Linked DNA regions of Homo sapiens: region 1 is linked to region 2. A link means that fine-mapping ties the variant in region 2 to the plasma level of a protein whose gene starts in the linked region. Region 2 holds a variant in brackets. A gene starts in the other region. All regions are shown on their forward strands. Region 1 holds the start of C1orf56 (chromosome 1 open reading frame 56). Region 2 has its middle 13 kb from the start of ZNF385B.

The links. PIP is the posterior inclusion probability: the model's chance that the variant is causal. The UK Biobank Pharma Proteomics Project read protein levels with antibody pairs (Olink). The fine-mapping took linkage between variants from a reference panel, not from the people measured, so its PIPs are less certain.
Region 1: it holds the start of C1orf56, and the variant in region 2 is fine-mapped to the plasma level of the C1orf56 protein (UK Biobank, PIP above 0.99).

Annotation. Positions count from the first base shown.
Region 1 is chr1:151,046,293-151,050,428 of GRCh38, forward strand. It overlaps C1orf56 (chromosome 1 open reading frame 56), which reads left to right and starts at 1,459. Exons shown (of 2, transcript NM_017860.5): 1 at 1,459-2,560. The coding sequence starts at 1,556. It overlaps BNIPL (BCL2 interacting protein like), which reads left to right. Exons shown (of 10, transcript NM_138278.4): 10 at 359-1,428. The coding sequence ends at 395. RefSeq lists enhancers at 1,787-1,836, 2,117-2,356.
Region 2 is chr2:179,872,034-179,876,560 of GRCh38, forward strand. No RefSeq gene overlaps it. Among named protein-coding and RNA genes, the nearest start is that of ZNF385B, 13 kb to the left of the region's middle. The variant C/A (reference allele first, on the strand shown) is at 2,690.

The sequences.
Region 1 (4,136 bases), not on the chromosome of region 2:
GTATATGGGGAAACTGCACACACCCAGAGAAGAAATGAAGGACACTACTGCATCCAACAAGAATAAATGAAAAAAAAAAAAAACCTATACATATAAGTGCAGAGGCAATAAGGAATAAAGGAATAATCACAGTGCAGAGGAGATTCAGACTGGCCCTAGAAATTAGGAAGAGATGTGTTGGCAGTGAACAGATGATATCCAGTGGGGGAGAGGGTGTTAGGGAGCAAAAGTGCTAAATGATGACTCAACCCAATCATCTAGCTCTTCCAATTCACCTGGCTTCTCTCCCCAAACCAGAAAATAAAACCCAAGTCCTACCCCCTGAACCACTTCTCTCCTCCCCCTCTCCCTCTCCTAGGCTGGACCGGGATCTCCATGGCTCAGGAGGGACATAGCACAGGACTGGATAAAAGGCCTTAGAACCAGTTAGTGATCTGCCTACACCTGAATCCCTGAAACATCTGAACTGTTTTGTAAATCATCTTATCCCCAACCTCAGTACCACCGGATCTTCACTTCTCAGTGGGATTTTGTCCTTTGCATGACCCTACTTTCAGCAGGGCTTTGAGGCTGGGAAACTGATCTGCTGGGTGACTTTCATTCCAGTTGCTGGGACGGAAGGCTGAATGTAGGGTCATTTTGTATGGGATATGCAGAGCTCTGGGTTTTTTTGTTTTTTGTTTTTTGAGACGGAGTCTCGCTCTGTCGCCAGGCTGGAGTGCAGTGGTGCGATCTCGGCTCACTGCAACCTCCGCCTCCCGGTTCAAGCCATTCTTCTGCCTCAGCCTCAGCGAGTAGCTGAGACTACCGGCGCACGCCACCACGCCCAGCTAATTGTTTTGTATTTTTAGTAGAGACGGGGTTTCACCATGTTGGCCAGGATGGTCTCGATCTCTTGACCTCGTGATCTGCCCGCCTCGGCCTCCCAAAGTGCCGAGATTACAGGTGTGAGCCACCGCGCTCGGCCAGAGCTCTGGGTTTTAATCCTACTTTAGCTGTAGAACCTTGGGCAAATAACTTCATCTTTTTGGGTCCTAATTTTCCTCCTGTCTAACTGGAGGGACTGTGATCCTTCCACCTTGGATGGAAGAGGCTTACCTGACAGCCAGCCTGCCTGCTGGGAGCCAGGAGAGTCAGCTCATTAAATCTTGAAGAACCGCTGTATGCCCTTTTTCCTTCTAAGTCATGTCTGCTGCCTGTGAGCCTGGGAAGGAGTGCTTTCAAAACCTGTATTTTTGCCCTCTTTAGTAAATTTAGAACTGTAGAGGCTAATAAACTGCGATGAGACATTTAAGCTCTGCTCCAAAGAAGTGAACGACTCTTTCACCACCCCTTGCATCCCAAACCTTCGGTTCTGGCAGAGTTCTTGCCGCAGAGGTTCCTTAGGAGCACCCCGCGCGGCCCGCGCGAGCGCGCCTGCGCGTCGAACCCCACCCCCTTCCCCGCGGGCCTCGGTTCAAACGACCCGGTGGGTCTACAGCGGAAGGGAGGGAGCGAAGGTAGGAGGCAGGGCTTGCCTCACTGGCCACCCTCCCAACCCCAAGAGCCCAGCCCCATGGTCCCCGCCGCCGGCGCGCTGCTGTGGGTCCTGCTGCTGAATCTGGGTCCCCGGGCGGCGGGGGCCCAAGGCCTGACCCAGACTCCGACCGAAATGCAGCGGGTCAGTTTACGCTTTGGGGGCCCCATGACCCGCAGCTACCGGAGCACCGCCCGGACTGGTCTTCCCCGGAAGACAAGGATAATCCTAGAGGACGAGAATGATGCCATGGCCGACGCCGACCGCCTGGCTGGACCAGCGGCTGCCGAGCTCTTGGCCGCCACGGTGTCCACCGGCTTTAGCCGGTCGTCCGCCATTAACGAGGAGGATGGGTCTTCAGAAGAGGGGGTTGTGATTAATGCCGGAAAGGATAGCACCAGCAGAGAGCTTCCCAGTGCGACTCCCAATACAGCGGGGAGTTCCAGCACGAGGTTTATAGCCAATAGTCAGGAGCCTGAAATCAGGCTGACTTCAAGCCTGCCGCGCTCCCCCGGGAGGTCTACTGAGGACCTGCCAGGCTCGCAGGCCACCCTGAGCCAGTGGTCCACACCTGGGTCTACCCCGAGCCGGTGGCCGTCACCCTCACCCACAGCCATGCCATCTCCTGAGGATCTGCGGCTGGTGCTGATGCCCTGGGGCCCGTGGCACTGCCACTGCAAGTCGGGCACCATGAGCCGGAGCCGGTCTGGGAAGCTGCACGGCCTTTCCGGGCGCCTTCGAGTTGGGGCGCTGAGCCAGCTCCGCACGGAGCACAAGCCTTGCACCTATCAACAATGTCCCTGCAACCGACTTCGGGAAGAGTGCCCCCTGGACACAAGTCTCTGTACTGACACCAACTGTGCCTCTCAGAGCACCACCAGTACCAGGACCACCACTACCCCCTTCCCCACCATCCACCTCAGAAGCAGTCCCAGCCTGCCACCCGCCAGCCCCTGCCCAGCCCTGGCTTTTTGGAAACGGGTCAGGATTGGCCTGGAGGATATTTGGAATAGCCTCTCTTCAGTGTTCACAGAGATGCAACCAGTAAGTGTTTGGTGATGAGCCAGGGTCTTTGTTGACGGATCTGAAAAGTCCTGGTATCTAAAACCCAGTTGCTAAGCCAGCCAGTGTTGCTTACATGAACTGTTACTGACTTACCTGGTTATTGATTCATAACATGCATTGGTTATTCACATTGTTAGCCATTGATTCCACCTATTATTTATTGAGCAACTACTGGTTGGTCATTAGGTAAAATGTCTTACTGCTCATTAGGTGATTATTGACCAAATAGTTAAGATTGGAAATATTTTTTTTTTTCAAGACAAGAGTTTCACTCTTATTGCCGAGGCTGGAGTGCAATGGCGTGATCCTGGCTCACTGCAACCTCTGCCTCCCAGGTTCAAACAATTCTCCTGCCTCAGCCTCTTGAGTAGCTGGGATTACAGGCACCCACCACCATGCCCGGCTAATTTTTTTTTTTTTTTTAGAAGAGACAGCATTTTACCATGTTGGCCAGGCTGGTCTAGAACTCCTGACCTCAAGTGATCCACCCGCCTCGGCCTCCCAAAGTGCTGGGATTATAGGCATGAGCCACCATGCCTGGTCTTGGAAATTCTCTGTTTTTTTCACAGACAAGATCTCGCTATGTTGCCCAGGCTGGTCTTAAACTCCTGGGCTCAAGCAATTCTCCTGCCTCAGCCTTCCAAAGTGCTGGGATTACAGGCATGAGCTACTGTGCCCCTGACCATAAGACTTTTTTTTCGAGACAGGGTCTCTCATCACTCAGGCTGGAGTGTGGTGGCGCAGTCACAACTCACTGCACCCTCCATCTTCTGGGCTCAAGCAATCCTCCCACCTTAGCCTGCTGAATAGCTGGGACTACAGACGTGCACCACCATGCCTGGCTAACAAGATCTCGCTATGTTGCCCAGGCTGGTCTCCAACTCCTGAGCTCAAGGATCTGCCCACCTTGGCCTTCCAGAATTCTGGGATTACAGACATGAGCCACTGTGCCCGGCCCATAAAGTCTTTTTGATGCACAGATAATTAACAGATATGAAGGATCTTAATCAATTAATAGTTTTGACCTAATACAGCTTAACAGCAACAAGTGCCAAAATTTGAGGTCTTACTATGTGCACTTTACCTGAATCGATCCTCACATCCTATGAGGTATTATTATCCCTGCTTTTCAGATGAAGAAACTGAGGTTTACAAAGCTAGTAAGTGGCAGAGCCACGAGATTTAAACCAGGTTTGACACCAGTGCCCACTCTCTTCACCACTACCATTTGGGAGTACTGTCCTTCCAGGACAAGGAAGGATAGTCCTCTGCTTTTCCCAGAATTAGCAAAGGTTCTGATTGACTTGATAAGGTAGTCTCAATTGATACGGATGATAGGACTTTGAGGAGGGAAAGGTAATAAAGCTTACACTTGGTCATTTTGCTTGTTTCTGTTTTTCTCCTTGTGTGTCCAATACCATTATTGCATACAAAAATAAGTAAGGGGTGGGCAGTAGGGTTGAGGGAATATGGGTTTGTGGGAGGGGGAGATGAAGCAAGGAAGGGAAAAGAATATAGATGTGGTTGTAATTTCCCTTTTTCTCTATTTTTTTTT
Region 2 (4,527 bases):
CATAGCTTTCTTCCTACTTCACAATTTCTTTGTAAATGGATATTTTTAAATTTCTTCCATATGTCTACATAACTTGTCTGAGATCTCTGTTAGGTATTTATTTGTGTGAACTGCTGCCTTTTTCTTTCTTTATACTTCCTTGGATAAATCCACCTTCATTTTGTTCTACTTTTGAAGAGTTTATGATTAAACTCAGCAAAATCTTTATGTTTGCAATGTTAGTCCATGAAAGAAACTTTCACTTGCTAGGTACCCAACACGTGCACAACACTGTGCTAAGCTATGGGATAAAAAATCCAGGCAGAAGGAAGACCATGAAAACAGAATGTAACACAAGAGTTCTTATATTTAGGAAAAATTGAAATGTAACAGGGTAGACAGGATGTCTAAAAAATCAGTTCAAAAGAATATGTAAAGCCAGGCATGGTGGCGAATGCTTGTAGTCCCAGCTACTCAGGAGGCTGAGGCAGGAGGATGGCTTGAGCCAAGGAGTTCAAGGCCAGCCTATAGAAGAGCAAGAAGGAGGAGGAGGAGAAGGAGGAGGAGGAAGAGGAGAAGGAGGAGGAGGAGGAGGGGGAGGAGGGGGAGGAGGAGGGAGAGGAGGGGGAGGAGGAGGAGAGATAGGAGGAGGAGGAGGAAGAGGAAGAGGAGAACATAGCAACCAAATTTAAATTGATTCCCTATGAACTCTGAGGGAATAGCAGTGATGGGTTGAATTCATGAAGGATGGTTCTTGGGAATGATAAGAGAAGTATATGGAATGTCAGTGGTCCAGCTGGTGGTGGCAGAAGTAGTCTAGCTAAAGGAAATGGCACAGATGTAGAAGTAAGCAACTTGTTCAGACAATATCCAATTTGTTTTTGGCTGGATAAGGGAATCAGAGTCAAAAATAAAAGAGCAGGGGAAAGTAGGTGAGAATAGAAGACAAGACAGCTGTTTATCATTTCTAATTTGTGGCAATTCTTTATGTGGTTTAATTCTGATCCTTGTCATTTAGGTGTGCTGCAAACATTTTCCCCAAGTATCTGGCCTGTCTTTTTTTTCTTTAACATGACTTGATGAGCACAAGTTCTTAATTTTAGAGTAGTCAAATTTATTAATCTTCCCAAAATTAGTACTTTTGTATCATGTTTAAGAAATCTGGCCAGGCATGGTGGCTCACGCCTGTAATCCCAGCACTTTGGGAGGTTGAGGAGGTCAGGAGATTCAGGCAGATCATGAGGTCAGGAGTTCAAGACCAGCCTGGCCAATATGGTGAAAATCCATCTCTACTAAAAATACAAAAATTAGCCGGGCGTGGTGGCACGCGCCTATAGTCCCAGCTACTCGGGAGGCTGAAGAAGGAGAATCGCTTGAACCCTGGCAGAGGTTGCAGTGAGTCAAGATTGTGCCACTGCACTCCAGCCTGGGCGACAGAGCAAGACTCCATCTCAAAAACAAAACAAAACAAATTTTCTGTACCTAAGTTTAGAAAGATATTCTCCTGTATTCTTCTAAAGATTTTTAAGTTTAGCTTTCGACATTTAAGTTCTTAATCCATCTGTAGTCAATGTTGATGATCCATATTTTTTCCTAGCTCAACTTATTTAATGGTCTCTCCTTTCCCCAGTGATCTACAATATCCCCTCTGACATAAAGAAAAAGGTACACAAATTTACCTCAGGTCCTCTGTTCTGTTCCACTGGTCAATTTATAAAGTAGTGTCCCTGACCATTGACACTTTTAAATACCACCTTAATTATAATAGCTTTATAGTATGTTGTTATGTTTGGTACAATATTAAATCTATAGATCAATTTGGATACGATAGGTAGTTAGGTAGACAGATGGATGAGTCTTGAATGGACGTATGATGATAGTATTCATAAACCCATGACTATAATTAATTCTATATACTTGAAGTCCAAAGATTACAGTGGATGGGGAGTAAAGGGGATTTACTGAGTGCACCTTTGGTAAGGTAAGCATTTTTTTTAAAGCCAGGTCATATTTTAGATTATATAATGATATTGAGGGAAACAAAGTAAACACAAGAAATCCGCAACAGCCAAATCAAAATTAGACACATTGACAATTCATTTGAATAAACTGCAATTCTGAGAAAAACCTATTACTTGCCTTGTAGTCCACATTACTTGAGAGCATGGACTATATATGCCCAGCTTCTAAAGCAATTTCTGGCAAACAGTAACCACTAAATATATTCGAGGCACGAATGAACAATGAAATGGTAGAAAGTATCATGGACAGAGTGCATATTTTTCATTTGAATATTTACTTCCGTTTTATAGACAAAAATTCTTGGCCAGGCGCAGTGGCTCATGCCTGTAATCCCAGCACTTTGGGAGGCCAAGGCAGGCGGATCAACTGAGGTCAGGAGTTCAAGACCAGCCTGCCCAGCATGGTGAAACCCCGTCTCTACCAAAAATACAAAAATTAGCCAGGCGTGCTGGTGCACTCCTATAATCCCAGCTGCTAGGGAGGCTGAGGCAGGAGAATTGCTTGAACCTAGAAGGCGGAGGTTGCAGTGAGCCGAAATCGCAACACTGCACTCCAGCCTGGGTGACAGAGCGAGACTCCATCTCAAAAAAAAAAAAAAAAATCCTTTAGTTAAGAAAAAAAAAAGTCTGCATTTACAAGTACTTGCAGTTAATCAAATTATACTTCTTCTGCATTGCCATGCAATTGC[C/A]TTAACGGTCAATGACATTTATCAACAGTCCAGTGGAAGGGACACACTGTGCTAGATCCTGGGAGGAGCTATGAAAGAAGATACATGAGTCAAGCAGGAATGGCCCCTGTTGTTCTAATTTTCACTCAAGCTGAGAATACAAAATGAGCAAAAGAGAAAATGTCAGAACACTTAGAGTAATCAGTGTAAATGAAGCCAGCACAAACGGCATGTATGGGTACTGAGAGAATGTGGGCAAGGCACCAGGTGCCCCTTTGGAAGGTGAGAGGCAGTGGAGCTCCTGTGAGAGCTTTCTCATGCTGTTGAAGGAGTCATCGTGTCTTCTTATTTTTTTTTTCAAACTGTGGTCACAGCCCATTGGAGAGTCATGATTAACACTTATTTAAATAGATAATATCATATTATCTGTATGAATCTATATAGATAAATATATGTGTATTTAATTTTACCTGTAATGTATAGACATCTTTATTACACATTTAATTATTACCTATTGTTACAGAAATAGAAGACAGTTTCACAGAGTAGAAAATAGAGTGCCTGCATGGCAAATACTAAAAATAAGAAAGAAGTGCCAGTTTATTGAACTTTAATTTTGGTTACTTTTACGGTTTCATATTTGTAGGTATGTGCTGGGCTGTAATAGAAACAGTATTTCTTACTGTCAGTTGGCCCAACATGTTTGAAAGCCCCAGTAAATTGAGAAACTAAAGGATCTGCATGGCCAGCCGAAGAGGAGGGCGGAACAAGAAACTCCCCTCCTTTCTGTCCTGTACACATACAGTGATAACTCCTCAAGGCCAGGCAGTAGTCACTCTCTGATAAGTATATATTTTGTTGCCTTGTCTTTTCAGATTTGCAGTCAGATGAGAATCTTTGTTTAAAACAACTTGCCCCATTTCTTATAGCTATTTGCAAAGCTGGGAGTTTCTGCTTGTGGCTTCCCAAATATTTATAGCTCCTCCATCAGTTTAGAAGTTGTTGTCTCATCTTTTTAAGTCTGAATTCTACCTACTCAAGTTAAAGCAACCTTCTTCAGCAACAATGTGGGGATCCTCTTATCCCTGCCTGTTCTGTCATTTCATCTAGCAGAGCAGTGTTATGATGAGCCCTGTAGGCACAAGTGTATCTCATCCTGTCATTTCTGAGGTGTGTATGGTTTATTTTAACTATACTATGTAGAAGGAGCTTACATTCATTAAATGTAGTGCATAAGCAATTTTGCTATCCTTTAAGAGTAAATCTGTAATTATTCTGTAACAACTGTCTTGCATCATTTCTTTTCTAGATATGCTTTGTAAGTTTTCAAAATTGAGAAAACATTTGAACTACTAAAGTTGAACTTGTCAGCACTTTTCCTCCAGTGCTCATTTGTCAAAAGTTATTGAAACAATGAAAAATAAATCTTTGCAGAAACAGGAGAAATGGATTCTATGTATGAAGCCCAGTTGTGTTGGATTTTGTTTCAGTATCTTTTTTTTCACTGCCAGCAAAACAAGACAATTCAACAACCTATGTAAAGTCAGTTTTACAGATTAATCCTGAATATTTCAAATGAGCACATAGTTAGCAGGTATCTGCCAAATGAGGCACAACCTTGAAGACAATCAAAGAGTTGGAGCACAGAACCAACAAAAAGCAGAAGGTCAATAGGTTAGAGGCCTAGTGCCTGATTGTTACCATTGTTGGATATCTCTAACTTCAGTGGGAATTCTCTTTACCACCAGTCTTCATGTGTGCCCATGTGAGCAGGAAATTGCTCCTGTAGGTGGCGAGCAGAATATGAAGCTCCAATTATGTCTATTCTCTGTTATAGGGGAGAATGGCAGAAGCAAATA